4 linked regions of the Homo sapiens genome follow. The protein of the gene in region 2 purifies or fractionates together with the protein of the main gene of each other region. This does not show direct contact. Each region holds a gene or a part of one and is shown on either strand. Other genes may lie near its edges. The genes, in order: SOS2, SNX18, SOS1 and TMEM154.

Region 1 (8,141 bases), on a different chromosome or scaffold from region 2:
GAAATTTTATAATTTTTACTTACAATAAAAAATAGGTATCCTGATACGTAAGCATAACATATCACATGCCAGAGATATGTGATGCAAACATAGGATATTTAAATATTTGAATTTCTTCAGGGTATTTAAGAATAGCTTCACTGAGAAAGAACTCTTTTAGTTTAACTTAACTGCTGTGAAGTTAAAAATATTCCCTATATTTGAATTAAAAGCTGAGAGCTTTTGTGTTAACTATATATTGAAAACTGACACATAAAATGTGTGTGTGTGTGTATATATATGTGTATATATATATATATAAAAAATATTCAAGCCAAACCTAAGTTGTACTGGTTGGACATATTCCTTGCGAAATCTTTTAAGGTCTGCACTGATTGGCTGCTCGCCTTTCTCTATTGCCAATTTGTCTGCGTCAGTAGGTTCTGGCTCTGGAATTTCAAACCTAAGAAGAAAAGCAAAAGGAGAAAAATCCGTTCATACATAATGAAAATACAAGGAGGAAAACAGCAAGCAACCTTCTTTCCTACCACTTCCACGAAAAGTGGATTACTGTTAAACTTCCCTTGAGGTATGATATACTACAAAAAACTGTCCTTTGGCTATACAAAACTGACGTTTTGTATTCTTACTTTTATAAAAACTAAAGTTTTGTCTTTTAGCACTGATAATACAGAAAAGGTCCAGGGAAAAGAGCCAAGGAAAGAATTCATAAGGAATTTAAAGAACATGACAGAAATTGCTTATCTAACAATGTCTTTAATATTTATATTATTAAAATGAAAGTAGGCTAATAAATTTATTTAAATGAGTACAAATTCAAAGAGAGGGCCAAAACCGAATATTTAACAATATTTAAATAATTTACCTAAGTGGATAAGATAAAGATAAAAAACCTTGCTCAAACATAGGAAATACAGCTAAACTATAAGTCTAACGTGTGCTTTCCTTATTCTGGACATGGAAACAACTAAGTAGATCCTCATAGCACATTACACTGACTCAGTCTGGTAAATTTAGTTTGATAAAACAACATAGTGATAGAGATCTAGAATTATATCTTGATAATACAGTTAATAAGCTTTGGTATAATAATAAGTTTTAGTAAGTTTTAAAACGTAAAACTAAAAATCATTCTGGAGTCCAGATTCTACATTTTAAACTATAAAACATTTAAAATGCCACTATAATACTAGGTAAAACAAATTCAACCCAACACTAATTTTTAAAAGTTAATCATAATAAAGGAATTGCTGATTTTTTAGGTTTAATAATGATATCTGATTATTAAAAATGATCCCGTATTTTCTAGAGATACATAGAAAAATATTTATAGATGAATTATGTTGTCTAGGATCTACTTCAAAATAATCATGGGGTGGGGTGTTTAAATTTGTAGGGAAACAGATGAAACAATGAGTTGATAATTACTGAAGGTGGTTGATGAATAAATGGGTTTATTATATTCTTGTATCTGCTCTTGTATGTGTTTTGAAAGTTTTCATAACAAGTTTGTTTTAAAAGTGGAAAGTATTTGGCAAAGTAGTCTACGGTCCAAAAAAAAAAATAGTGGTAAGTAGAAAAGTCTCTTTTAAGAAAATATCATTTTATTACACAGAACAATATTCATTAAAATATAGTGCTTTCATCCTCTAAATTAGTCTTTCTGATTACCACTTGAAATATTTCTAAGAGCTGAAAAGATCTGTGTTTATAAACAGATTTTAGGGAGTACTCCATTTGAAGAGAATAGTAATACTGCCAATTTAATGCCAAATAAAATATGTTCAATAATTAACTTGAGTATTTATTAGGTACTAGGCACTTTACAAAATACAGTTAATTTTTCACAAAATGTCAATATAACTGAAATACATATTTTTCTTACCGTTCAATCAGTAAGCTCAGCAATTCCTGTGGTTTACAAAATGAACGATATGTGGTAAGAAAAGTACGAACAAAATTGGGATCTGAAAAGGCAGAGCATAAAATAGGTTTCATGTTTAATGTATTCAGTTTAATTAACTCAAAGTACCATATTTGGAGGCCTTCCTCCCTTTTTCTTTTTACTTTGGCTCCTCAGATTGTGGCTTTTCCTAACAATCATGGTACTGGCAGGATACCATGGTATCCCTGCCATACATAGAGAAATACTGACATAGAGAATATACTATGGTATATCCTTAATAAGCGAGGATTGTTTTCAAATTTGAAATTCATGAATATGGCTGGGTGAGGTGGCTCACGCCTATAATCTCAGCACTTTGGGAGGCCGAGGTGGGCGGATCACGAGGTCAGGAGATCGAAACCATCCTGGCTAACACGGTGAAACCCCATCTCTACTAAAAATAAAGAAAAAAAAAATTAGCCGGGCATTGTTGCGGGCGCCTATAGTCCCAGCTACTCGGGAGGCTGAGGCAGGAGAATGGCGTGAACCCAGGAGGTGGAGCTTGCAGTGAGCAGAGATAGCGCCACTGCACTCCAGCCTGGGCAACAGAGCAAGACTCTGTCTCAAAAAAAAAAAATTCATGAATATGCATATTTTATGAATATTTATTCAATAATTAATGAAGTTAACAATATTACATTTTTAGACCTTTAATTCCTTCTCTTATTTATTCCTTTTGTTTTTGCAGTATTTTTATATTTTGGAGGCAATCCATTTTTTCCCCAAGCCTCAAATATTTTTGAGCATCCTTAAAAAGCTTTTGGGTCCCAGGCCCTAGGTCAGCAGTTGTAATGAGTTTCACATACCTGCATACATATGATATGTTAACCTTTCAATTAATTTCACTACAGTTCCTCCTTTAATAATGGGGATGCCACTTCTACTTTGCAAGTTGTCTTCAAAAACAATGTTTTCCTCAGAGTCTTTTACTACAAAACGATATACTTCAGGACTTGGTAATCTCAGTGGTTGCTCATTTTCTTCTTTCAATAATACTGAATCTAACATTCGATCTAGAGTACTACGATAATGAAGAGAAATAAGGGCTGCCATCCAGTTGTTTTTTTCTTCAGCAGACTTAGCAGCAAATATTATGCTGTTCTCATCTTTGGATACTAATTCAAATGCATGCTTGTGCTCACAAGTATCTTCTTTATCACAAATTTGTATTTTCCTCATGACAAATTTTTCTTTTAACCTGTATTCTGCACTACTGTAACCTGGAAGCCGAGTCTGGCCATGATTAGGTTTACAACTGATCATTAAGCCATCAAACAGAAAAATATGCCGTTCATGTTTGGCACCGATTCTTGTCAATGGTCCCTCCATAATGAATTCATTACAACACTGTCCAATATCTTTGCCTTCCCATCCATCGATATTTTTCTGAATTTCATTCATTTTTTTGATAGCCAGGTGTTTGCTTCTTAATTGGTGACTATAAAAAGGGCAAACAGGATCTCTAGAAAAAACAAACAATATAGCTTATTCAACAGCTAGCAACCCAAATGGTTTCAAGCATAAACCATCTCAAATCAAGTGAGTAAAATATTAAATAACCAAACAGTAGCTTTTACGCACAGCATTTAGTTCTAACTTTGCCACTAAATAATACAGCCCTCAATTTCATTATTATGAAAGAGAAGTACTACTGGCTCTATAAGAACTAAAATTACAAAAAATCCTAAATTTCTTTCATAGATTATATTTTTAAACATTTATTAAGTCTATCCTAATAATATAACAATGCTAATCTTTTTTTTTTTTTTTTTTTTTTTTTTTTTTTTTTGGAGCTCTTGTCCCCCAGGCTGGAATGCAATGGCACGATCTTGGCTCACTGCAACCTCCCCCTCCCAGGTTTAAGTGATTCTCCTGCCTCAGCCTCCCGAGTAGCTGGGATTACAGGTGCCTGCCACCACGCCTGGCTAATTTTTGTATTTTTAGTAGAGATGGGGTTTCACCATGTTGGCCAGGCTGGTCTCAAACTCCTGACCTCAGGCGATCTGCCCACCTTGGACTCCCGAAGTGCTGGGATTATAGGCGTGAGCCACCGTGCCCAGCCAACAATGCTAATCTTAAGACTAGGCTGGGTTGGCCAGGTGCAGTGGCTCAGACCTGCAATCTCAACACTCTGGGAGGCCAAAGCAGGCAGATCACCTGAGCCCAGGAGTTCAAGACCAGCCTGGGCAACATAGCAAAACCCTATTTCAACAAAAAATACAAAAATTAGGCAGGTGTGTTGGCATGTGCCACCCAGCTACTCGAGTCCCAGCTACTCCAGAGGGTTGAGGCAGGAGGACTGCTTGAGCCCAGGAGGTTGAGGCTGCTGTGAGCTGAGATCACATCACTGCACTCCAGCCTGGGCAACAGAGTGAGACCCTGTCTCTTAAAAAAAAGAAAAAAAGGCTGGGCGCAGCGGCTCACACCTGTAATCCGAGCACTTTGGGAGGCTGAGGTCAGGAGTTTGAGACCAGTCTGGCCGACGCGGTAAAACCCCGTCTCTACTAAAAATACAAAAATTAGCTGGGCATGGTGGTGGGCTCCTGTAGTTCCAGTTACTTGGGAGGCGAAGGCAGGAGAATCATTGGAACGCAGGAGGCTAAGGCTGCAGGTTGCAGTGAGCTGAGATTACACCACTGCACTCCAGCCTGGGCAAGAGAGACTCCTTCTCAAAAAAAAAAAAAGGAAAGGAAAAGGAAAAAAGAGAGTAAAAGACCAACATAAAAGTATATAAAAGTATGACAAGCACAACTTTCAATAATGTAACTATCACAATAAATCACACTTCTTTGAAAACCAGGCATCAGAGACAGCGAAGTAAGCAGAGGCATTCACGTTTTCAACACTTTGGAATTACCCAGGTCGACGTCTAGGTGAATACTGCTTGTAAATTCGGTCCATGCTACCTTGGAGATTCATGAGAGCAGTAATAGCTTGGTTCAAACATTCTCTGTCTTCTTGTTCTTCACTACATGCTTTCAATTGCTAAGAAAAAACAGAAAGAAAAATCAAAACTGCATTGTTTGATTCTTCCCCCAACTTTCTAGTAATAGAAAAAGCAGCAACAAATATTATCAACTCTAAGTTAATTTTATATATACTTAATAAAAACAGCTATAATTTTATATATACCTACTGCCCTCTCAAACCAACCCTTTTTCTTTCTTTTTTTTTTTTTTTTTTGAAACAGGATCTCACTCACTGTGGCCTTGAGCTCCTGGGTTCTAATGATCCTCCACTCTCAGCCTCTCAAGTAGCTGAGACCACAGGCGAATGCCACCACACCCAGCTAATTTTTAAAATTTCTGTAGAGACAGGGTCTCGCTATGTCTCCCAGGCTGGTCTTGAACACCTGCTCAAGCTATCCTTCTGCCTCTGCCTCCCAAAGTGCTGGGATTACAGGTATGAGCCACCAGTCCTGGCCCAACCTTCTTTCTATAAACATAAACACAATACAGATATAAACTAACATGAGCATAGTAATCAGGAAAAAAAAAAGCAACTGTAAAAACCATTCGGACATTTTATTTTTATTTTTTATTTTTTTGAGACAGGGTCTTACTCACTCCGTCACCAAGGGTGGAATACAGTGGCAGGGCTAACTGCAGCCTCGATCTCCTGGGCATAAGGCTTCCCGAGTAGCTGGGACCACAGTTGCATGCCACCACATCCAGCTAATTTTTTTATTTTTATTTTTTGTAGAGATAGGGTCTCACTAGGCTGGTCCCAAACTCCTGGACTCAAGCTATCCTCCCATCTCTGCCTCCCAAAGTGTTGAAATTACAAGTGTGAGCCACTGTGCCAGGCCACATTTTCCAAACATATTTAAAAAGTTTAAAACACCTAAAGCATGAAGCTTACAACTTACTTTTATTCATTAGCAACTATGAATAGAGAAAATAAGTAACTATAAACTATTTCATATTCTCTAATGATTACTTTGTTTTAGCAATTTCAAGTTTACAAATCTTTGTTATATAACATAATCAAGGGTACTAACTTTTAACACTTCAATCTATCATAAACTTTTCCGTAAACAGCATCTCTCAAAGGATTCCACTGCTATTTTTTACAATATGAAATGTCAAGAAACCATGAAAATTAATTCTATCTCAATCTTTAGAAGATTTAGAAACTGACTTATTAATCTCTAAAACTCTGGTTCTATTTCATTTGCCCCAAAATGTTCTCTTGTATTTCACTCTCAGAAAGAAAGCAAATTTACTTATAATAAATAATTCAGATTGTATTGTATTGTGCTCCAATGTTTTGATTTTTTTTTTTTTTTTTGAGACAGGGTCTCACTCTGTCACCCAAACTGGAATACGGTGAGGTGATCATGGCTCACTGCAGCCTTGCCTCAACCTCCTGGACTCAAGTGATCCTTCCATCTCAGCCTCCCAAGTAGCTAGAACTACAGATGTGTGCCACCATGCTTGGCTAATTTTTTTTTTTAATTTTTCTGTAGAGATGGGGTCTCACTATGCTGCCCAGGCTGCCCTCAAACTGTTTTAATCTTTTGAAAGAAGAGTTCAAAGTGGAACATCATATAGATATTATATATATTATGTATTTATAAATATATATTTATGCAAGGATATGGGGAATTATGATCACTTCAGAAAATTTTTAAAAACTTAAATCTATTTTGTGATCTTTAACTTATTAGAGATTTTGTGATAAATTAAAATTTTCCTTATATTCCAAGAGCAATCTCAAAAGCATTCAGCAATGGTTCCCTTTCCTCAGCAAAGAACTAACTGGCTATTGTTTGACAACTTTGTCCATTACCTTTTATTTATGTCTTAGAAATTAGTCTCTATATGAAGCACAGAGCCATTTGATTTTATTTCAAGACACATGTAGAGGTCTTGTCATCAAGAGATTAGCAACATAAATAATGTAAATGACTATTATTAGAAGTAATACCTTAATCTCTAGACTAAGCAATAGAAAGGATGGAAGCAAAGTCAAAATATCATAGAAAGTTTGAAAAAAGATCTGTGCTTGGTTATTCTGACTTCTACAGGTGAAAGTTACTGGCAAAATCACTTATTTTGCTGCTTTAAAGATTTCTTACAGAAAGTCTTCTCAGCTCCACTCTAAAATATTTCTTTAATAAATATGAATGTTGATGACATCAAACACTTAATTAGAACTGTTTTATTCTTGTTTTTGTTTATCCAAATATCTAAATTATCACCAGTAGTGATATCCTACCAAAAAGGTATGATTTTCATTGTCTACTTGGTCTTAAGGCTGCTCAAACTCTTCCACGTGTCATTTTTAAATAACCATGTAATAATTATAAGCTGTAAAGGAGAACAAAATTGAGGATATTTAGAGTGGGATTTCCTGGTAATGGAAGTATATTAAACAACGGCTCTGTTTGGCATAATAATCTGATAATTTGCTAAATATTTCTTGAATTTTCAGCAGTGAGATTTGATAAACATCATATTAATGAATATCCAACTAATATTCTACAGATACTTAAAAGAATGTGTTCCAAACATCTTACACAGAAATTACTGGGCCAGGCAAGGTGGCTCACACTTGTAATCCCAACATACTGGGAGGCCAAGGCGGGCAGATCACTTGAGCCCAGGAGTTCAAGACCAGCCTGACCACACGGAGAAACCTTGTCTCTACAAAAAATACAAAAATTAGCCGGGCGTGGTGATGTGCACATGTAGTCCCAGCTATTTGGGAGGCTGAGGTGAGAGGATGACCTAAGCATGGGAGGTAGAGAATACAGTGAGCTGAGATTGTGCCATTACACTCCAGTCTGGGTGACAGAGTGAGACTCTGTCCCCCGCAAAAAAATGAAAATAAAAATAAAAAATACAAAAAAAAATTAGCTGGACGTGGTGGTGCATGCCTGTAATCCCAGCTACTCAGGAGGCTGAGGCATGAGAATCACTTGAACCTAGGAGGTGGAGATTGCAGTAAGCCAAGATAGCACCACTGCACTCCAGCCTGGGTGATAAGGCGAGATTCTGTCTCCAAAAAAAAAAAAGAAAGAAAAAGAAAAGAAAAATTACTGTACTGAACTATGTGCAAACAAGTAATGTACTTTCATGCCCCCATTCGCTTTCTACACAACAGTCTCTGACCTCCTTATCCACCCGGTGAATTTAGCCACTAGGATACAGTTGAAATGCTTCCTCTTGAAGATGCCTTCTGATTATGCCTT
Region 2 (8,141 bases):
GGTGAATGTATTCTCTGGATCTTGTGCTCTGAATTAAGCAAACGAGACCCCAGTAAACATGTTATAACTAAAACTTACTAATGAGGAAAATGTGTGTGTGTGTGTGTGTGTGTGTGTATGTGCGTGTATGCATGCGTAAGTTTAAACACCAAGAATCAATATAAAGTGAAATCATGAGGTATACAATATTAATTCTCTGGCACTTTAAGCATTTTCAAACTTCCCCTCCCCTCCCCAATGAATTATGTAAAGTCATTTCATAAACACAAAACTCTAAGACTTTTAAATCACTCACATGTTAATGACTTCATCCATAAAATACATCTAGATTCTATCTTTATTTCCTGTACACTTTAGACTGTTATCCATCATCATATAAATGGAAAAACAAAAACATCTTATAAATCTATTTCAAGATCAACCAAGTAGCTACTGAGTGCCTACTTCATTAATTCAGCAAGCATTCATTAAGTACTTGCTATGCATGTATAAAACAGTAGTTAACAGCTATACAACACAGGAACATAAAAACATAACCCACACACTAATAACTGAGCACCGCACAGACAATTATTCACAAAAGGACTACAATCCAAGGGGGATACTCCAAGGAAGGGGACTAGACCTGAAGCTAGAAAGTGCTTGTGTTGGGGTGGGGAGACATGGAGCAGAATGCATGAGCCTGATCTACCTAAAAGGAGAAAACTCAATTCCTGATTGCTGCTCCCCACCCCTGTTCTGACAATTCTTATTGTAGGCCAGGCCAAACAGGCCAAAATTACAGTCACCCTTGATGACTCCCCTTTCTCTTGCATGTCACATCCTTCACAATCCCATCTCTCAGGAAAACCTGTTGATTCTACCTCCAAAATATAGCTGGAGGGGGACCCCCCCCCCCGGCTCCCCGACCACCACCTCTGTTGTCTCCACTCTGGTCCAGGCCACCAGCATCTCTCACCTGGATTACTGGAGTATTTCCTACTAGCTCCCTGCTTCCATCCACCTTTGACTGCCACACGCCATTCTATTCTCATTGCTCTGGACTAAGTCTGTTAATATGTCCAGTTGGATGTCATACCTTGGCTCAAAATCCTGTAATTGCTTCCATCTGACTCGGGCTTTCATTCCAAGTCCTAACAGTGACCTGCAAAGCCTTGCAAATCTGACTTTCCATGACCTCATCTCCTAGGATCCTCTTAACTTCAACCACCTGGCCTTGCTGTTCCTCAACCTGCCTGGCACATGTCCACCCCAGGGCCTTACTTTAGCTAAACCCTCTGCCTGAAAAGCTCTCCCCCGAGATACCTGCTTGGACGACTCTCCTGACTCCAGAGTGATTCAGGTCTCTGCTTAAATCTCACTTTCTCAATGAGACCTACTTTGAGCACTCTTACTAGTACTTCATCCTGCCTCCCATGCCCTCTTTCCCTGCTCTACTGTTTTCTCCTAGCACATACCAAACTCCAACATACATCAAAACTTACCTCCTGTGTTTGTTTTTCATTGAGTGTCTCCACCCTGCTAGACTGCAAGCTCCACAAGGGTGGGGATCTTTGTTTTGGCCACTGATGCAACACTAGCATCTTGAATAGTGCCTGGACGATGATGGGTACATACGTATTTGTTGAATAAAATCTAGTTTATCTTTTAGAGGGTCCTATGAATAAATCTAATGATTTTATCTCCCCTTCCTTCACTGTCCCCTTACCTGCTAAATAACAATTTATTTAGCAGAAGAGGAAAGTCAAATCACAGTGACAGATAAGTCATAAGAAAAGGTACAGAAATGACAAGTGAACTAAAACTCATTCAAATTAAAGTTTAATCAAGCTATAAGATCAATATCAGAGGCTGGGCACGGTGGCTCACACCTGTAATCCCAGCACTTTGGAAGGCCAAGGTGGGTAGATTGCTTGAGGTCAGGAGTTCAAGACCAGCCTGGCCAATATAGTGAAACCCCGTCTCTACTAAAAAAAATAAAAAAGTTAGCCAAGCATGGTGGCACATGCCTGTAATCCCAGTTACTCGGGCGGCTGAGGCAGGAGAATCATTTGAACTCGCGAGGCAGAGGTTGCAGTGAGCCGAGATCGCATCACTGCACTGCAGCCTAGGTGACAGAGCAAGACTCCATCTTTAAAAAACTGTCATAATTTATCTCTTTGGTAGTCCTATTAATTTGGGTCAGAGAGAAGTCGCTCCAGCTGTCTACCATACCACAGCTTCAGAACACCCGGGAACCCTCACCAGGCAGCAGCAGGCCAGGTATTAATCACTTTTACATTCGAAGTTCCTAGTGAGGTAAGCCTGCAATGCGTGATTGCTGATCTGAACTAAACGTGCATAAATGTTCTTTCACATCAACTGATAAGGGCTTTTCATGCTCCCGTAAAACAGTCACATAAGTAGACAGAGAACACTATTAAAATCAGCCTGAAACAATGTCTAAAAGTTTCCTGGATACTTAAGACTACTCTTATTTTTTTAAAAAAGTCAACTAACAAAATAGTACCTAGGAAATAATGAACCTCACTTTTACAGATGAGGAAACTGAAGCTCAGAAACATTAAGTGATCTGCACCAGAACACGTGATTTGGGTTAGAGGGGAGCCAGGAGGAGACAGTTTACATACACTCTTCAATGTGAACAACAACAAACGATTGACTCCAAACAACATCTACATTTATCCCAGTTGCCATTACTTCCGGTGTGCAATACAGGGCGAACTGATTAAAGCAGATATTTAATTGCTAGACTGAAGACTCCTTGAGCTTTTGTACTTTTGCCTACAATTCTGGTGGCAATAGGTTGCCAGGAGGGATGATAAGATTACTGGAATTGTCCTTCAAAGGAGAGCGCCCTTAATTTTTTTTTTTTTTTTAAAGAGACAAGGTCTCACTGTGTTGCTCTGGCTGGATTTGAACTCTTGGGCTCAAGTGATTCTCCTCCCTCAGCCTCTCAAGTAGCTGGTATTAAAGCCATGTGCCACCATGCCTGGTTGTCATCTCCTTTTAAATTCACCCATCTATTTTTCAAAAATAAACATTTAGTGACTAGCTACTATGAACTATAACATTTAATTCTCATGCTGACCTCGTGAGGAAGTGCCCCCACTTGGCCAAAGATAAGTGAGCGTTACGCAGGTTAAAATAGCTTGTCCAAAACTCCTCCATGCCCACACACTGGCCCTCCAGAGCCCATGCTGGTCCCGACAGGCCAGCTCCCACTGCGATGAGGCTCTGCACCCACGGCTTCTTGGCTTGGCATGCTGCCCCTTCACTGGCACAGCTTCCTCAGCAGACCCAGCTCAGTCCCACCCCTTGGTGCAACTCCTGGGGCAGACTGGCCCATCCACCAGGCTCTCAGAATCCTGGCACAAGGAACTGCCGAGGCTGGCTGACCTGTCTCTGTAGCTAGTCAAATAACTCACTTAAGACCAGAGGCCTACCCAGCCCTCCTGCAGACACCGGCAGAGCGGCCAGATTCTAGTCTGTGTTGTATAAATATGAGACATGATACACGTCTGCCTTCCGGATATAATCTTGTCAAACAGAGCTCAGCATTACTCTGCCACTTTATAATCCTTTAGTTAATGATACAGAGCTTCAAAAATATATGGCAAATTAAATCTAACTTGATATTTAAACTTTGATTTAAAAATACATGGGGTAATACAATAATAGTTTTTTATTCAGCCCAAAGAGAAGGAACATATTAAATAGTTCAAGGGAAGTGTTTGTAAGTGAATCACAGAACTTCTCACTTGTTTGGGTTCTGGCATTATGCTTAGAAGTCCTAAGATGGCCAGACAGGACAACATTGCTGAACAAGGAAACCTCATAGGCTCCCTGAGTTACTGGGAGGAGGGTGGGAGTGCAGGTCCTCTGCCTCCCTTCGGTCCCACTGTGGTCGGCATGACTCTGAAGGCTATGTGGCTCAAAAAAGAAGTCTGAGAAACCCCTGACGGTGTGGTATGAGCGGTGCCCACACCCAGTTTCGTGCCCAAGACTGTCCTTGGGCAGTCACATTTATATTTTAACCAAGGAACTGAGTCGTGTATTTCGAAAGCACCAACGGTCACCTTATTTTCACTAAGAAAACACAAACTGGGGCAAAGGGTAAGCCCCAGACCTGTTCTCTTTTTAGAGACATGAGGTCTTTTTAGAGAACAGCTGGGGGTAAATGCAGGGGAGAGGAGAAATGGGTTCAACTAAAGATGGAGTGAAAACAAAAAGAATGAACAGCCTCAATTTCTAGCCCAGAGGTTTCAAAAATAAGGATGAATTTGCAAACAGCCCCAACTTCTTAGAGCTTTTCTCTGTATTCCTGGCACCACCCTTTCAGGGCTATTTTTAGCTACAGGAGAATGGGGAGCAGACAGGGAAGGGTCTCCGTGTGGCCCAGCCTTACCTTGTGTGCCCTGCTGGGACTCCAGCTATCTTTAATTAATGTCTGAAGGACATCAGGCCAACTCTACTAGTGGTAAAAGGAAGCACAATGGTGAAATTCTACCCAGCAAGACTGACAGGCCCACTACTGGTATACCATTCCTGAGGTCCTGGGGCTTTTATTGAAAAAAGGCTCCATCTGGAACATTTAGAGAGCGATGAAGTAGAGTCTGTATATTTAAGAGTACAGAAAACAGGACTGCCTATTTACTTATCTAGTCCTGCCTCCCTGCTTCACACAGCCCAAATCGACAAATCAATTTAACACTATTTTACACCTTTTCTCTAGAAGAAAGACATTTCACTTAAAGGAACTCCCTCTAGCCATTTTTATTTAGTCCAAATTCCTAAACAAGGATGAAACCAGTATTTCTCATAATCTTTTACAGTCTTCCTTTTAGCAATAGTCGCAAGAGGTAAACCTAAATCTTTTAAACCTCAACTTGCTGCCACCTAGATTTAGCTTTATTAAATATTAGAGATTGATCATATCTTTGGAAACAAAACTGAATATGCCAAGAAACTAATAATAAAATATATTCCTCAGTACTACCCAAACTCCTCAACATCAACACTATAAAGGTATACTGCAGACAGGCATGATAAGGAGGGAGAAGATAAAATGCTATCACTTAAGAAAAAAAAAATCAAGACCACAGGGGTTACATGTCAGTGACAAACATCTGCACACTGCCTAGTCAGGGATTGATGAGCTACCTATGAACAAAGAACTTAAAGGACTCCTATTAGGTCAAAGCAAAACACAAATAAAATTCCAATAGATTCTGAATTCCCATCTAATGTACCGCAGACTACAGCAAACTACCGTCTTTCTTCGCTCAACTCCATTAACCTAAATAGTTAGACTCCATCCGTTGATGAAAAAAAATCAAAATTCCAGAATTCTCTTTTGGCTGAAGGAAGTATATCGCTTTCTTCACTTCTGCAGAAAGTATGTACACTAAAACCATTATTAGTTTAAAGAATGGGTTCAGTATTTAGTATAGTCAGGAAAATTTCAGCCCACCAACATTTAAGAGTATTTGAGTTTTCCACCCTCATTTTGCAGCTGGGTTCTCACCAGGATGGCCTCAGACATCCATCCCGTAACCAATGTGTTTTCTGAATGGGACATAAAGGCACACTGCAAGAGATGCTCACGCTACTGAAATGTCACTCAGGTTGAGTGCTTGGGAAATTCAGCAAAGAAGAATCTAGCAGGACTTGCTTCCCCCTTCCCAGTTTTTATTAATTAAGCCTATATGGGAAGGAGGAGGTGCAATGAGATGACCAAGTAAAAATAAAGCTATCAGGAAACTATATTAAAATATAATAATTTGCTGGAGAAACTTACGATGGGGTTGATAGTTAAACTGCAGCCAGCAGTTTAACACAGCACTGTCCAATAGAACTTTCAGCACTGATGGAAAAGTTCTATCATTTCTGTTGACCAATATTCAGTTCCTTAGTCACATTAGCCATATTTCAAGTGTGTAACAGTTGGGGTTGGGGAGGTGACGGAATTGAGATGCTCTTTACAACCACAAGTCCTGAATACGCTCAGAAAGCTTTTATCCTGGCTTATGATGTTTGTCTCATCTATACTCCTAAAAATGGCCTACACTAGCATCCTTGATAAACACTGGTTATAGGCAAATGCTTTTAGCCTTATGTATCGCACACTGTCACTTTAAATGGTAGTATTTTCTAAAGATGTGTCATCCAGGGACACAGGTTCACTGTACATTACACACCAAGGTTACAGCAGAAACAAACTATACTGAATATCAACTGCTGTTCTTTCCAAAGTTCCTAGAGATTATGTTTAGTGCTCTTGAATCTGTTAAGCCACATAAAATGATACTGGTTTTAATGAAGGAAGTTTTTCAAATCCCAAGTGACTAGAGACAAATCCAGTTCTATAATTTAAAAAAGATAAACTAGGCCGGGCATGGTGGTTCACGCTTGTAATCCCAGCACTTCGGGAGGCTGAGCTGGAAGGATTGCTTGAGCCCAAGAGTTAGAGACAAGCCTGGGCAACATAGCAAGACACCTGTCTCTACAAAATAAATAAAGAAGTAAATAAGCTATATATTTTTTGTTTTGGACACAGGGTCTTGCTCTGTCACCCAAGCTGGAGGGCAATGGTTCAATTATGCCTCACTGCAACCTCAAATTAACTCCTAGCCTCAAGCAATCCTCCAGCCTCAGCCTCCCTAGTAGCTAGGACTATAGGTATGAGCCACCATGCCACGCTAACTTCTTTATTTTTTGTAGACAAGGGAGTCTCCCTATGTTGCCCAGGCTGGTCTCGAACTCCTGGCCTTAAGGCAATCCTCCTGCCTCGACCTCCCAAAATGCTGGGATTACAGGCGTGACCCTGGCCATAACCAGATGGTTTAATAGACTAAGTAGACCATTGCTGTAAACTCAAAATAGATATTAGAACACACACCATACCTTTTCTAATATATAATTTCAAAAGCAGGCCATTTGACAAAGCCTGAGTGCATGGTGTGATTGACAGTGAATGAACTGATGCCAACCTAAAGTAGACAGACACCAGCGGCCCAGCACACATGTCCAAGTGTCTGTACTTGGTTCCATCCTTTCAACTGTTCACCAGTAATTTGCACAAACTCACAGAAATGTGTAAAAGGGCAGCCAGCATAGGTCCAGAATGATGTAACACAATGGAATTTAAATGCTAAATCCCTCCATTAAAGGCTCACAAAGGCAGTTCCACCAACACCAGTCAAAAAAGTCAAAGATTCATAACAATTTATGTTTTAAAAAAAGGCATAGGTAATGTAAATACAGGTTTAATACAGGCCAACAGCAATATGATTGCACAAAAAACGAATTCAATATTAGACTGCATTTACAAATCGCAAATTGCCAAGAAAGTTACTACTGTCTACTAAAATTAGTACTGATGTCCAGGGTACTCCCTTTCAGCGGCAGCAACAAGACTGAAAACGTTTGATCATTCTCCCAGCAAGCCCCTTCCCCCATAGGAGTCAGAAGACCAGTCACGCATTTGGAAGGGGAAGGAGAGAAGCAGAGAGGAAGGAAGCGAGACTGCTGTCTCCAAATGTCTGAAGGCGGTCCCAGGGAACAGAAAGACAATCAAGGGAGGCAAACTTCAGTTCAATACAAGAAAAGACATGCCAGAGATCAGGGTTGCTCATAAACGGACTGGCCCACCAGAAAGGCAGTGAGCACTTCACCAGTAAAGGCCAGACCCGCTGAGGAAACAGGGACAGTAGGTTTCCCTGCTCAGGAGTAGGTTTCCCTGCCCAGCCGCCCCTACACTGGACTTTCACAGGCAAGACTGCCTCCCTAACTCCCACACCTCCCCATTCTCTCAATCAAGGCATTATATGAGAATGCACATTAGTAAGAAATGTTAAGACAAGCACTACTGCTATATATTTTTTTAATTTGCAAATTCTGGTGCTTTAGCAAAGGTCAGAGACACTAACAACTATTAATAACTCATGAACTCTGATAGTTGGACAGCTAACTCACTGGGATACCAGCAACGCTGCTCTCAGATCCAATACTCAGATTATATTCATTCTATGTAGTTTCCCTAAACAATTTTCCTAAACAACGTTCTCAATTTCAGTACATTAATAGATTTCAAACTCAAAATGAGTACGCTTTTCCTGAAATTACTTCACTTCGTAAAG
Region 3 (8,141 bases), on a different chromosome or scaffold from region 2:
AGGCGGGCAGACTGCCTGAGCTCAGGAGTTCAAGACCAGCCTGGGCAACATGGTAAAACCCTGTCTCTACTAAAACACAAAAGATTAGCTGCGTGTGATGGAGTGCGCCTGTAATCCCAGCTACTGGGGAGGCTGAGGCAGAGTTGCTGGAACCTGGGAGGTGGAGGCTACAGTGAGCGGAGATCACACCACTGCACTCCAGCCTGGGCGACAAGAGCAAGACTCTGTCTCAAAAAAAAAAAAGAAAAGAAAAGAAAATAGAAGTGATTATTTAGCATGAACTCCCTGCTCCCCAACCTACAAACCCATCTTTATCACTTTCCCTCCTGTATCTCATAAGAAAAGATGTCATCACCCCTGCCAGAGGTAGCATCACTTAGTGTTTTATTCATTAATGTATTTAGAGACACAGTCTCACTCTGTAACCCAGGCTGGAGTGCAGTAGCCCAATCATAGCTCACTGCAGCCTCAAACACCTGAGCTCAAGCAATCTTCCCACTTCAGCCTCCTGAGTAGCTGAGACTACAGGCATGTACCACCATACCTGTCTTCTTTTTTTTTTTTTTTTCCCTTGTAGAGACAGGGTCTCACTATGTGGCCTAGGCTGTTCTCAAACTCCTCCTGCCTTGGCCTCCCAAAGTGTTGGCGTCAATAGCATGAGCCACCATGCCCAGCAATATAGTGTTTAAAAATACAGATTTTAGAGTTGGGGGAGGGAGGCCATGGTGCAAAAATAAATAAATAAAATAATTTTAAAAATAAAAATAAAGATTCTGTAACTAAATTACATGGGCAAATTTAACTTTCCAAACCTTGATTTTCTCTCCTGTAAAAAGGAAGCCGTAATAGTATCCTATGAGAATTAAATGAGAACACAGGTGAAGTGCTTACCTTATCTCCCAAACAGTTCAAGGCAAATCCCATTGCTTTGTGTTCCTGAATCTTCACCAGCATTCTCTATTAGCTCCTTCCTCAAAGGCTCTTAGTAAGTTTTTGTCATCTCCAAGCAAGAAGCAAAAATGTCTTACCCAATCTTGAATCTCTTTTTTGCCTCAGCACTATCTCTTTTCCCTTCCTTTCCAAGCTTCTAGAAAAAAATAATCTGAGCAAAAAGGTCAGCAGCCCTTGCTATTCTTACTTTTCCCATGTTCTTCCATCTTCTACTATCACAATAAAACTGCTCTGACATAGTGACCAATGACCCCTTAGCTGCCAAACTTAACACTTTTCAGGCCCTTTGACTTTTCTATAGCCTGGTATGATCAATGACTCTTTCTTTTCTTTCTATTTTTGTTTCTTTCTTTTTCTGAGACAGGGTTTTACCCTGTCACCCAGACGGCAGTGCAATGGCACGATCATGGCTCACCTCAGCCTCAACATCCCAGGCTCAGGCAATCCTCCCACCTCAGCCTCCTGAGTAGCCAGGACCACAGGTGCGTGCCACCAAGCCTGGCTAATTTTTTTTGTTTTTTGTTTTTCTTTTTGTTCTTTTCTTTTTTTTTTTTCTTTTTTTCTGAGATGGAGTTTCACTCTTGTTGCCCAAGCTGGAGTGCAATGGCACAATCTCAGCTCACCATAACCTCTGCCTCCTGGGTTCAAGCAATTCTCCTGCCTCAGCCTCCTGAGTAGCTAGGATTACAGGCATGCGCCACCACGCCCAGCTAATTTTGTATTTTTAGTAGAGATGGGGTTTCTCCATGTTGGTTAGGCTGGTATCGAACTCCTGACCTCAGGTGATCCCCCGCCTCAGCCTCTCAAAGTGCTGGGATTACAGGCGTGAGCCACCTGGCCCGGCTGATTTGTTTTTGTTTCTTTTTGAAACAGAGTCTAGCTCTGTCACCCAGGCTGGAGTACAGTGGTGTGATCTCAGCTCACTGAAGCCTCCAACTCCCAGGATTCTTGTGTCTCAGCCTCCCGAGTAGCTGGGATTACAGGCGTGCACCACCACGTCAGGCTAATTTTTGTATTTTTAGTAAAGACAGGGGTTTCACTATGTTGGCCAGGCTGGTCTCAAACTCCTGACCACAGGTGATCCACCTGCCTTGGCCTCCCAACATGCTAGGATTACAGGTGTGAGCCATCGCACACAGCCAACTCTTTTCTTGAAGCATTCCTCTCTCAACTTCTCAGACACTAGGGTTTCATTCCTTCTGCCTGACTCCTTGCTTCTCGGTCTCCTTACATCATTCCTTTTCCTCTGCTATCTCCCTATACACTATTTCCCACTCCCTTCCCCCACTTCTTATGCCAGCCCTTTTTCAGTCTTACTAAAATCATTTTCAGCGTGTGGTCTCATCTACTTTTTAAAATACCTTCATTGAGGTACAACTGACATACAATAAACTGCACATATTTAAAATATACAATCTGAAAAATTTCAGGATATGTACACACCCCTGAAACCATCAGCACAATCAAGATAAGTAAACATAAAAAGCCTCTCCCTAAACAACCACTGATCTGCACTAGTTTGCACCTTCTAGAATGTTCTATAAGTAGACTCATATAGTATATACTCTTTTTTGGTTTCCCTTCTTTCATTGAGTATAATTATTTTGAGATTCAGCCATGTTGTCATTTGTATCAAATTTGTTCTCTCTCTTTTTTTTTTTTTTTTTTTTTTTTTTGAGACAGGGTCTCATTTTTTTGCCCAGGCTGGAGTGCAATAGCACAATCACACCTCACTGCAGCCTTGACCTCTCAGACTCAAGCAATGCTCCCACCTCAGCCTCCCAAGCAGCTGGGACTACAGGCTCATGCCACCACACCTGGCTAATTTTTTTAAATGTTTTGGCTAATTTTTTAAGTTTTTTGTAGAGACAGGGTTTCATTATGTTGCCTAGGCTGGCCTGGAACTCTTGGGCTCAAGTAATCCTCCCACTTTGGCCTCCTAAAGTGCTGGGATTACAGGTGTGAGCCACCACACCCAGCCAGTTTGTTCCTTTTTATTGCTGAGTAGTATTCCACTGTTTGTATCACAATTTGCTTATTCATTCACCTGTTGACGAACATTGGATTTTTTCCAGTTTTTGACTGAAAAGAGATGCCATGAACATTCATGTATAAGTCTTTGTATAAGCTTCATCTATATTTATGGCTTTACTTACACATCTAGAAGTTCCAAATCTGCTTCATCAGATACCAACAACCAATAGTATTCCACTGTTTGTATCACAATTTGCTTATTCATTCACCTGCTGACGAACATTGGATTGTTTCCAGTTTTTGACTGAAAACAGCTGCCATGAACATTCATGTATAAGTCTTTGTAGAGGCTTCATCTATATTTATGGCTTTACTTACACATCTAGAAGTTCCAAATCTGCTTAATCAGATACCAACAACCAATAGCCAGTTGGAGAAGTTCACTTGAATAACCCAAACTTTTAAGTCAACATTTCCAAAAATCATCTTATTATGCCACTCCTCTCTCCATCCTAAGAGCTTCTCCTACATTCTCTATCCTGACTAAAGACAATCAAGTCAGAAACAAGACTATTCCTGTTCCATTACCATTCCCCCAATCACTCAGTGAGTTACTAGATCCTGTCAATTTTGCCTTGTAAACTTCTTTCAAATAAAATCCACATCCATATTTCCATCCTTGTTCAAATGCACCCTTAGTTCAAATGTGTATTATCTCTTGACTGGACTATTAAACTAGGCTTCTAACTTTTCTCCTCACTTTACGTCTCATTCTTCTCCAAACCATTTTCCATTCTATGGCCAAAGTGAATTTTCTAAAATTAAAATGTGCTGTTACTCCCCTACTTAAAACTTATTGGCTGGGCACAGTGGCTCACCCTGTAATCCTAGCACTTTGGGAAGCTGAGGCAGGCAGATGGCTTGAGCCCAGGAGTTCAAGACCAGCCTGGTGAAACCCCATCTCTACAAAAAATACAAAAATTATCTGGATGTGGCAGTGTGCCTACAGTCTCAGGAGGCTGAGGTGGGAGGATAGCTTAAGCCCAGGAGGTGGAGGCTGCAGTGAGCCAAGATCGCACCACTGCACTCCAGCCTGTTAAGACTCTGTCTCAAAACAAACAAACAAAACAAAAACAAACAAAAGAAACTTTATCAATGGCTTCTAATTACCCAAGAAAAAATTTAAATTCCTTAGCTTAACATATATAAAAACTGTTCATAAACCAGTTGTCTCTCCAGACATGCCCTGCCACTTCCCATCATGTTCTAATTTAGTCTTTTCTGATTATGTCATTTACTTTTTTTTTTTTTTTTTGAGACAGAGTTTTGCTCTTGTTGCCCAGGTTGGAGTGCAGTGGTGCAATCTCGCCCCACTGCAACCTCCGTCTTCCGGTTTCAAGCTATTCTCCTGCCTCAGCCTCCCGAGTAGCTGGGATTACAGGTGCCCACCACCACGCCAGGCTAATTTTTGTATTTTTTAGTAGAGATGGGGTTTCACCACGTTGGCCAGGCTGGTCTTGAATTCCTGACCTCGTGATCCGCCCACCTTGCTCTCCCAAAGTGCTGGATTACAGGCGTGAGCCACTGCGCCCGGCCCTGTCATTTACCTTTTTAGCCTGAGTGTCAAGGGCAATACCTGGTCTATAGTAGGCATGATATATTTGTGCAATAGATAAGATAGGACTTAGACTCATAGATGCGGTGAAACAGATACAGTGGGACATTCCAGCCATATTCAGGAAAAGTAGCAGTCCGGACTGGCTAAAGCAAAAAGGAGATAAAAGGTTATGGTAGACAATCCAGTCAGAAAAGCAGGATGAAGCCAAATATCAATTGCTGTTAATTCTATGCTAAAAAGTGCACTTTAGCATAGGTTGAACTCAAAAGACATCAACAATTCTGAGTGTGACATGTTCAGAAGTGTCCTATAACTGGTGAGATTTGAAAAACAGAAGGTGAGGTGGGGGCCAGTGAACCCCATTAAGAAGTTATCACAGTAGTCTGACAAAGGAGACTCAATTAGAGAAGTCGGAGGAGGAATAGACTAGAAGAACATGTCAAAGGGAAATGAACATACAGGCTCTACCTGAGTGTGCACAGTAATACAAAGAAGCCAGAGATGACCCCAACATTTTAAACCAGTCAAATGTAACAATAAAGCCATTAATCGAGAAGAAAAACTGAAATGACAGGTGGAGGAGAGAAGTGATAGTTTTAGTTTGTATATCCCCTCACCTATTTATTCAAATTGAGTGCCTACCAGATGTCAAGCACTATAAGTATGGGGAATAAAATGTGGGTAAGATATCATCCCTGTTCTCAAGGAGCATCCAATCTAGTTATAGGCAAGTAAATAGGAACTTAAAATTCACAGAGCTAGGACAGGGTGCAAAAAGAAAACAAAGGAGTAATATCCAACTCAGCCCTGATGATTTGACAGTTCAGGTTGAGTGAGTCTAGAAGGATGAGTAGTGTTGGACCAGGCAAAGAAGGATGAAGGGACTAGCATATCCAAAGAGCCTCAGGTAAGAGTAAGAGAACACAAGTCGGATGTATCTACGAATAATTCAATAACAAATCAAAGGAAGAAATCAAGATATGGAGATATCCACATGAAATGTCCAGCAGGCAAGTAAAAACGTAGGTTTTGAGCTACCAACAGCATATCCAGATATGAAACATACTGTATTTTCAATCTTGTTTAGAATCATTGTTAGTGGCTATTTAAATAAGAATTGGAAGAACCTTACATATCAGCTAGATTATGTACACTTCCACCTCCTCCTATCACTTCTACTGCAAAAGTATCTCTAACTTAAAGTCAAAAGCTGTTTTATGTAAATATGCAAAAAGGACAAGTGGGGGCTGTGGTAAGGTGGAGATACATGACCTGTCTAAAGAAGGGAGCCATTTACTCAACTCCAGCAGTTTAGTGCCTCGCTTGAATACAGGCCCTAAATGACAAGACCTTCCTATTCTTCAAGAAAAGCCGAAAATTCAGGTTTTATGTAATATCTCCCATTTTCAAATATTAGCAACTAATTACATTTAAAAATAAAACAACACTATGCCAGCCAAACAAAATGCTTTTGTGGACAGATTTCAGCAAGGGCCACCAGTGTGGCAGAATTAAACAACGTCTGTCAACTCCTACAATATTCTTTCCACTGCTTCAAAGGATCCTCAGCTGATACCTTGGTGATTCCCCTGGGAAAGGAGCTGCTTTTGCCTCTAAGCAAAATGGCCCCTATTTGGCAATGCTTTATGAGTTCCTTTACACGTTTTTAAACAATTTCCGTGTCTCCCCTTACTCTATCCGGACACCAGCTTCTAGCATCACAGAGACCTCCTACACCCCTTCCATTACAAGCTAAGAAGTCAAACTTGCAAGTAAAGCAAAAGTAAGGAGTGAGAGCCTGAAGGGATTTCTAAGGAGTAAAGTATGTAAGATATATGGCATCTTTTCTTCTGTTTTTTAAAAAAAATTACATAGATGTTTGTGACTAGTCAGACACTTGAAGGGGAAAATGTCCGTAATTTAAGCCAGAAATATATGAGCAAATTCTCCTGAAAAACCAAATAGTTTCCACTGTAAGACAGCAAGAGGGACCGGAGGAGAACAGGGCAAAAGGGAAAGTAAAAGTTACTGGCCTTTGAGAAATATCAGACACCTTTTAATGTTTAGCATAAAAGGTAAAACATAATCTCCATTCTTAGTAGAAGCAGTTAGCATGAAACATTCTTTGAGCAGCAAGAAACTGGGATTTAGAAACACTATTAGAAGAGTAAAGCAATCTTTACAGAAAAGGTAAATGAAGAAAAGAAAACAAAAATAGTCTGGTTGTCACACTGCTGCTTTAGAAGCTTTAAAAACGTAAGAACACTTCCTAATTATACTAAAACATTTAAAAGCACAGATCGGGGGTATGTAACTTCAGGTAACAATGTAGCAAACTTAAACATACAAAGGCTAAAAATTCTTAACAAGCCAAATGACAGCACCAAGAATCTCGAACGCTGCAAAAACAAAACAAAACCCCCCTGAAATTGGTAGCATGTGCACCAGCCCCTGTTAATCGGAGGAGCGGGGGAAACCAGGAGAATGAGGAGTGAATACTGACGGCGAGCAGAGCAGGCCACGTTCCTACTGGCAGGCGAGCTCGCAATTCCTTTGAGCAAGCCTTACGGCCAGGGCATTCTCAAGCCACTAAAACCAGCGTACTGGACACCTAAAACGGTAGGCTGACAGCAGCTCCGGGCTAAGACCAAGAAGACGGAAAAGTGGCCTGCTTTGACCTCCGCTGAAAACTGAGGCTCCTCCAACTGTTGTTGTCCTGGAATCAAAGGGCAAAGCATTCACCTCTCAGGGGTTGGATTATCCGGATAAACTCCCCCCGGCTCCCTGCGGCATTCCCACACACCCGGTGGATGTCAACACCGAGAGCCAGCCGTATGAGGGGGGCCTCTCCGTGTGCGCCGTCCTTTTGGAGACGCGGCGAGACCGGGAAGAAAGACGGCCCTGCGCGCGCCCCGCCTCCCCAGCCCTTCCCCAGCGCCCGCGCTGGGGGGCTGCGGCCGGGAAGCGGGGTCCCGCGTGCTCCTCACCTTTTTCAGCGCAGGCACCAGTAGTCCCCGCCACTTGGGCGCGTTCTCTTCGCTGAAAAACTCGTAGGGCAGCTGCTGCGCCTGCATGGTGCCCCCGGGGCGCCTCTGGGCGGGGAGAGGGGCGGCGGCGGCCGGGCCAGGGAGCCGCGAGAGGGCGAGCTCGCAGCGCGGAACAGGGCCGCGGCCCCACCGGACGGCCCGGCCCCCTCCGGGCGCCGCGCAGCCGGGCTAGCCCTGGCGAGGGGGCTGGGGGGCGAGGCCCGCGCCTGGCCACCCACCCGACACAGGTACCAGCCGTGGAGAACGGACGCGGCCCGGAGGCGGCGGCATCCCGCACCACCGCCCCGGGGCCAGGCCCCCCGCCCCTCCCCGGCCCGCCGGCGCCGCCCCGGGCTGCCCTCTGCCGCGGCCGCCGCCCGCCCGCCGGGGCTGCACTCCCGGGCCCGGTCTGGCCCCGCGGCGGAGCTGGCGGCTGGGGGAGGACGTGTGGAGGGACGCTCCGGCCGCGGCGCCCGCTCCGCGTAGTTGGGACTCCGAAACGCAAGAGCCCCGGGCGGGGCGGAGCTGGGGCGGAGGTCTCGCGGGGAAGGGGAAGGACCGGAGGTCGTTGT
Region 4 (7,511 bases), on a different chromosome or scaffold from region 2:
TGTTTTGGTTCTTAATATTTCTTCTTTGGTTAATAAAAACGTATTCACCCTATTTTTTTTTAAAAAAAACATATACTACAAGGCAATATGTATGTGTTGTAGAACATTTGGAAAATATTAAAAATGCACAAAGAAGGAAATGAAAAGCATTAGTAAAGCCACCATCCAGAGAACCTGGCTCATTCTCAACTTCTGACTCTCTAGATGTGGATAAGTAAGTACAGAGGGAAAGAAACATGTGCATGGTGGATACCTCTGCATTTGGCTGCTCCCGAGTGCCCGGCATCTGTTCCTAGCACTCTGATTCCCTTTAGAAACTGCTTTCCCCTGTATCTCCTCCCCACTGCCAACCACCTAACCACCCACCACCCACCCATCCACTCACCCACCTGCAGGAGTAGAGAAAAGTGTCAGGCCCACTCCATCCCTGTACGCATTTTTACTGGGTTAGGCATAAAACCCAGATAGTCTAATCAAATTCCTCTGGTGGTTGGGGGGGAGCTTTTAAATATTAGACCCAGGGAAGGATTTTCCCTTCTACTCTGGTGGTAAAGACAGAAGACTCCTGGAGCTCCCAGCTGCAATAATTACAGTCCTGTAGAGAAAGCTGGTCCCAGAGAATGAATGAAAGACAAAATACTGGAGAAGCCTGATGGGGTTTGAGTCCCTGGTCTCATTGTTACTCATGTCAGTTTTACCTGGTTCTGGTTGTCCCTGGAATTGGCAACTTCTTGCCCTTTCCAAGCATGATGACATGAGCCAATAAGTTTCCTTTTGGGCTGGACTAGTTTGAGTTGGACATTTTCTCACTGGAACCAAGAGTCTTGTTTAAACAAACACACCACTATTACACATACAGAGAGACAATTAGAAGTGTATTTATTTAGTATATATATAACACTATGCGTATGTGTGTGTGTGTGTGTGTGTGTGTGTGTGTATATATATATATATATATATTTTTTTTTTTTTTTTTAATGCAAAGAAAACTGTTGGGCCTCATGTCACTGGCTCTGGATAAGGCCAAATGTATGGGTGGAGCTGCCCCCTCCCGCGGTTGACCCAGTTAGCTCCTAGCATTTTCACGGCTCTTATGGGAGTCAGCATGTGTGCCCTGATGCTGTGGGAGTGTGGGTCCAAGTTTAGGGTCTGTGATTCACACTGTCTCTCTGGAACTGGGCTTTCTAACCTAACAGGGAAACTGGGCAATGCTGACAAAAAGAAGGTATTGGCTATCTAGTGTCCTTCCCAGCCTTGCACTCTCAGGCCACACTGACCCCTGTTCACTGTGCAGCCAGCGGCCAATAAAGGCAGACTGCATAGCTCAGCTCCGTTGTGGAAACCGCCTCTCCTCACCTCATTCCTGCCCCTTTCCAGTCTGCCTCTGTTTCCCTGTCACCTCTAATTTATATTCCAGATTTTGACCCCTCCCCTGCCCCTTTGGTTTTAACAACGAATCTTAGTTTTTGCTGTTTAACCCACATCCTCCCACCCTGCTTCTCTTGCTCATGCTCTGGACGCCCCTGGAACACTGATCCTGACGTGAGTTCATGTGGCTGCTTCCTTAGAATCTTCATCTCAGTTGCCGGAAGGCAGAGGGTCTAACAGTACAAGCCAAGAGGAAGGATGGGGTTCCCTTAGGAATGGGACAGGGTGGGTTATGAACAGAAAGGCACCTTCATGCCAGGTAAAAAGCAATCAATTGGCACTTGTAACAAGATGGAGGTATTTCTGCATGGATTTCATGGAGTTAAGAGGTAAGTGGGTCTTAGCCCATTAACTGGCTTAGTTGGTCTCAGTGACATTCAGAGGTGCTGGGGAACATCTCAGGAAGGATTTACAGTGCCTCTTATTTTGTGAATCTGTCTTCCTGCCCAGAGAAGAAACAATCCTTCTCTGTGCTTGTATTATCACCTAAAATAGATGCTTTCCTCTTTTTCTTAATAAAACTTGTATTTCCTTTCTCTGTGGACCCTCCAGAGGGCAAAGAAGAGAAGCTCAGATCTGGGTTGGAAAGAGCTGCTTCGAGCATTTTAATGATCAGTTAGGCTCCATCCCCAGTTTTCCTTCACCTTCCAAATTGGGGCCACTTTCTCTCCACCTCCACTTGCTTGTTAGTTCAATTATGATCGTTCTCTGCTTCCTTCCATATTGGATTTAATGTAGCTAAAAATACAATACAATACACACAATAGGACAATATGAAATAAAGATAAAGAATGACATCAGGATCCATTAGATGGAAAGTGAGGAAAATGCAATTAAACCAGGAAACTTGGGAGAAAATGGTGATGGAAGATGAACAATACCATATTTGAGTTCTGCACTCACTGATGATAAAGACTGATTAGGTACTTAAGGAAAGATGATATGTAACTCCTAGCTCATTAAATAATTGGTTTTTCTGTTATTATGGAGCGTGCAGTAGCGCCAAGCACTTTTCAGGATACAGAGATGAGTAAGACTGATCCCTATCCTCAAGGTGCTCAGTCTAATCTGCTCCCATTTTAACCTCATGCTTTGAGAGTAGTCATACATTTCTATGTGTCTGATCCACCTACAACCCATTCAGTCCCATGGCTCATGACTCATGTAGTTGGTAAAACTAGTTCTACCACCTACTACAGACTACTGGACCAGGGGTCTATGTCCAAGCCAAAGAGCACATAGGCACTGGGATTCAGGGAGGTCAAATATCCACAATGTTCCTTGACACGAAACTACCTAATATATTTCCTCGATATTGCATGAAGACACACCAATTTGGGCAGATCACATTTTCCAACGGTGCCTGCAACAAATCCCTTATCCCACTTGCTCTTCTCATAATGTGGCTTTGACACGCCTCCAAGGACAAGTGGGGTTTATGTCCTTTCCACCTTGAACCTAGGTAGACTTTGTAACTGTCTCAAACAATAAAGTATGGCAGAAGTGATGTGATGTGATTTCTGAGTCTAAATTATAAAAATACTATGCATTTCTACTTTGCTCTCTTGGGACACTTGCTCTTGGAACTCAGCTGCCATGCTGTGAAGAAGCCCAAGGAGTCTATGGAGAGGCCCACATCATAAAAGCCAAGGCCGCTGGACCACAGGCTTGGCTGGGCTCCTATCCGACAGCCAGAACAAACTTGCCAGCCATGTGAGTCATCTGAAAGTGGGACCCCCAGATCCAGTTGAACTGCCCAGCCAATGCCGTGTGGGAGAGAGTTGAACCATTTGCACTGAGCCTCATGCAAATTGCAGATTTGTGTGAAAAATAAATTGAGTGTTGTTGTTTTAAGCTGCTAAGTTTTGAGGTGTTTAAGCAGCAATAGACTGCTGAAACACCCATCCAATCAGGTTTTCTCTCTTGGGAAGTGTGAACACTGGATGCCTCCAGGGGTGGGCCACTTGAGCTCAGGCTGAATCCCAAGCAATGCTGATTTTGCTGTTCTCCACACTCCTATATACATTCTAGGCTGGAGTATCCTGCAAGCCAGCACGACTATGGCTGTGAAGAGGCAACATGCCAGTCTGCTTGAATGTCTTTCCAATTCTAGCACTAAACACACCTGTCTCTAACTTGAGAGTCCCTGGACATGCCTCTCCACTGCAACCTTAAAGAGGATCATATGCTGTTTATGTCAGCTCTAGTAAGTGGGAACTTTATTTTTTCACCTAGTGACCAAACCTTTACCAGCACTTAGATTTTAAAACTAGGCTTTTTACTTATCACCCCTATTCTAAGCCCTGGCTTTTTTCTCAGCATGATAGACCATTACTTCTGGGCCTAGGGTCCTGCCTTCACTGCCTCTGTTCCTTCTTATCTCAGCCTGCAGCCTCTGTTACTTCTTATCTCAGGCTATGCTCACCTTAAGGCATCCTTGACAATGACTGAAACTTTTTTTTGTTTGTTTTTTTGTTGTTTTTTTTTAGACAAGGCTGGAGTACAATGGTGTGATCTCATCTCACTGTAACCTCCGCCTCCCAGGTTCAAGTGATTCTCCTGCCTCAGCCTCCTGAGTAGCTGGGATTACAGGTACATGCCACTATGCCTGGCTAATTTTTGTATTTTTAGTTGAGACGGGGGTTTCACCATGTTGGCCAGGCTGGTCTCAAACTCCTGACCTCAGGTGATCCGCCTGCCTCGGCCTCCCAAAGTGGTGGGATTACAGGTGTGAGCCACTGCACCCCGCCAAGTGATGCCTTTTAAAACACTTTCCTACGGCTAGTTATTGGGGATGCAGTGCAGTGCAGTGATTAAAAACTTGTGCTTTGGAGTTGGAAAGACATGGAACAAGGTATAAGTTCTCTAAACCTACCTCATAAGTAATTACTAGGATTAAAATGAGATGATGTATGTTTAGTGTTTAGCACCTTCTGGCCAGGGTGGCTACCTCTTCAGATACCCAATATTCTTCCACCACTTTGTGAGACAGAATCCCTTATTGTTGAAAGTGATAATGTACCAACCATAGAGATGACTGTTCCCTGCTGCCTTGCAGAGATTGGCCAATGAGATGTAAGCAGAGTTGCTTCACTGGGCTGGCAGGAAAGCTATTTAAAAGTGGCTGACCTACTTGGGAGGCTCACCCTTGTGCTGGTTCCCTCTCTTTCCTTCTTGTGAATATCATGCTGGAGTTACAACCACCATTTTGGATCATGTGGCAACACAGGAAAGAAGCCCTGTACTAATGAAGGTGGGGAAGAGTTAGAAGGAACTTGTGTCCTAGATGACCAGGGAGCGGCCATATGAGCTCACCTTGAATCAGGAACTTAATTCCTAACTGATCCACATGATGAATGCTGGTCAAGATGCATCCTTTCCCTAACTCTGTGGGACTGCATGCTCTTTGGGTCCATGCTGTCTCCAGTCTGGCTAAGTTCTAGTTAAAACAGGGAGGAAATAGACTCTGCATCAGTTTCTAGGGGTAGATTGATGCCATAATGGACCAGGTTTAACTTTAGTTGAGACTTTTAGGAGAAATCTTCCTGCCTGTTGTTTGTCAATAATACTGACTGGTCTTTGTGAGCCGAAAGAATAAATCCTTATTCAAGGAAGTCTTCATGTTATCTACAACTTATGAATCTGCCTTTCAGCCTTACTTTCTTCTAATATCAAGGTGTGAGATGAGGTTAAAATTAAAGGCATGAAGAAAAGTGAGTAATCAGGAAAAAAAGAGGTTTTCTTGTGGATTTTTCCATTTTTACTAGAATTTTTTTTTTTTTTGAGATGGAGTTTCACTCTGTCACCCAGCCTGCAGTGCAGTGGCTCAGTCTTGGCACTCACTGCAAACCCCGCCTCCCAGGTTCAAGCAATTCTCCTGCCTCAGCCTCCCGAATAGCTGGGATTACAGGCGACAGCCACCATGCCTGGCTAATTTTTGTATTTTTAGTAGAGACAGGGTTTCACCATATTGGTCAGACTGGTCTCGAACTCCTGACCTCAGGTGATCCACGTGCCTCAGCCTCCCAAAGTGCTGGGATTACAGGCATGAGCCACCATGCCTGGCCTACTAGAAATATTTTTAAAAGTTATATTCTCATAAACAATTAAAATTTCATTCCTTCATTTAAAAATGTTTTGTAAGGAAGAATAAAGACAAGAATGTGTAATAATATATTTTAGATATGCAGAAAGTCTACTTAATTTTTAGGTTAGACAATTTTATACAAAGCAGGCCCCTTTTTGAATTGGTATTGTTTCGTTTATTTAAAGAATTATATGGATCAAAAGAGGGCAATTAAGAATTATGAATTATGAATTCTTTTTCATAGACACAGAAATTAAAAGAACTTTTCCTTAGAAAGATGCATAATTCACCTCTACTCTTAGTAAATAAAACATTTTAGTAAACAAATATCTTATCCTCAAATACACTTTTATTCTAAATATTGATATTAATTACATAGAAATTCACATAGAAGCTATTCATTCCTCATATCTTATAGTGCTTTATTTTTAAATTTATAAATGTTTTTCAATCTATCACTGCCAAATGAGCAATTTAGCACACAAACATGTACTTATTTTATTTAAAAAAAAATGGAGTTGAGAATAATTTATATATACATATGTATACTGACATTTATAAAATTGTAAATCATACTGGAAAAATACTATACATATTATTCTCAGTATGCAAAGTAGGAGAAAAACACCTAAAACCTTTAATCAGTCTTAAAATTCTGATAGTTTTACAAATTAGTTCTAATCCGTAGCAATGGGACCATTTCTTTTTCTTTTCTTTGAGACAGAATCTTGCTCTGTCACCCAGGATGCAGTGCAGTGGCACAATCTTGGCTCACTGCAACTGCCGCCTCCTGGGTTCAAGTGATTCTTGGGCCTCAGCCCCCCGAGTAGGTGGGATTACAGGTGTGTACTACCACACCTGGCTAATTTTTGCATTTTTGTAAAAATGGGGTTTCACCATGTTGGCCAGGCTGGTCTCAAACTCCCGAGCTCAGGCAATCCACCAGCCGTGGACTCCCAAAGTGTTGGGAAGTAAGCCACTGTGCCTGGCTGGGACCACTTCTAATATGAGGCTTACAAGGTAGAATTTATATGCTGCTGGGACAAAAGCTAAGTGGCAAATATGACATCAGATGATCTAACTGACCTTCTCAGCAGATACTCTGCATCACTTGTAAAACAAAAGAAAGTCAAACACAGTGTTTTTTTTTTTTACATAATTTTCAGTTAACTTTAAATACAAGATACACATGTGTTAAATTATTACTAATCTACCAGATTATTGTTTAACTTGTTGAATACCTATAATCTCTGCTTTTTCTGAAAGCTGGCATTTATTAAACATGTGGAGTTTTCACATGTTCCTGGCATTATTTATAATTTGAGGTGTTTCACCGACATCAGAGTAATACATTGCTTACTCTCCACTGATTTGTACACTGGAAAAATGTTGTTTGCTGCAGTGTAGTAGCTACATATCATTCTTTAGTCCTTTACATGCAGACCAAAGAAATGAAAACTGGCTGGGCATGGTGGCTTATGCCTATAATCCCAACATGTTGGGAGGCTGAGGTGGGCGGATCACTTGAGCCCAGGAGTTTGAGACTAGCTTGGCCAACATGGCGAAACCCTGTCTCTACTAAAAATACAAAAATTAGTTGTGCATGCAGTTGTGCACGCCTGTAATCCCAGCTACTTGGGAGGCTGGGGCAGGAGGATCGCCTGAGCCTGGGAGGTGGAGGCTGCAGTGAGCCAAGATCATGCCACTGCACTCCAGCCAGGGCAACAGAGCAAAACACTATCTTAAAAAAAAAAAAAAAGGAAATGGGAAACTGTTAAGAATATGCTTTTCATAAAAGTCCAGTTACTTATTTACAAAATACTAAAGGCCAATGATAAGGTGATATGAACTGAGGAGTACCATTACCCAAGCCTTCTGTACCTGAAGTCCAATTGTAAAAAAAACCCCAAAGCCCATCCACCTTTGTCTTAAACAGGTCTACATTGTACTTCTAAACTTGTACAGTCTTCATGAAATTAACATCTTCATGTTTTCT

The links.
Region 1: the proteins of SNX18 (region 2) and SOS2 purify together in Homo sapiens (pull-down; one study listed by IntAct). This does not show direct contact.
Region 3: the proteins of SNX18 (region 2) and SOS1 purify together in Homo sapiens (pull-down; one study listed by IntAct). This does not show direct contact.
Region 4: the proteins of SNX18 (region 2) and TMEM154 purify together in Homo sapiens (co-immunoprecipitation; one large-scale study listed by IntAct). This does not show direct contact.

Annotation. Positions count from the first base shown.
Region 1 is NC_000014.9:50,156,680-50,164,820, forward strand, and holds part of SOS2 (son of sevenless homolog 2), read right to left. Parts: intron 4,931-8,141; coding exon 4,803-4,930; intron 3,408-4,802; coding exon 2,752-3,407; intron 1,968-2,751; coding exon 1,886-1,967; intron 443-1,885; coding exon 320-442; intron 1-319.
Region 2 is NC_000005.10:54,520,116-54,528,256, reverse strand, and holds part of SNX18 (sorting nexin-18), read right to left. Parts: exon of another isoform or gene 7,211-8,141; intron 1-7,210.
Region 3 is NC_000002.12:39,112,806-39,120,946, forward strand, and holds part of SOS1 (son of sevenless homolog 1), read right to left. Parts: 5' UTR 7,618-8,141; coding exon 7,531-7,617; exon of another isoform or gene 7,286-7,530; intron 1-7,285.
Region 4 is NC_000004.12:152,616,623-152,624,133, forward strand, and holds the end of TMEM154 (transmembrane protein 154 precursor), read right to left. Parts: 3' UTR 2,006-7,511; downstream 1-2,005.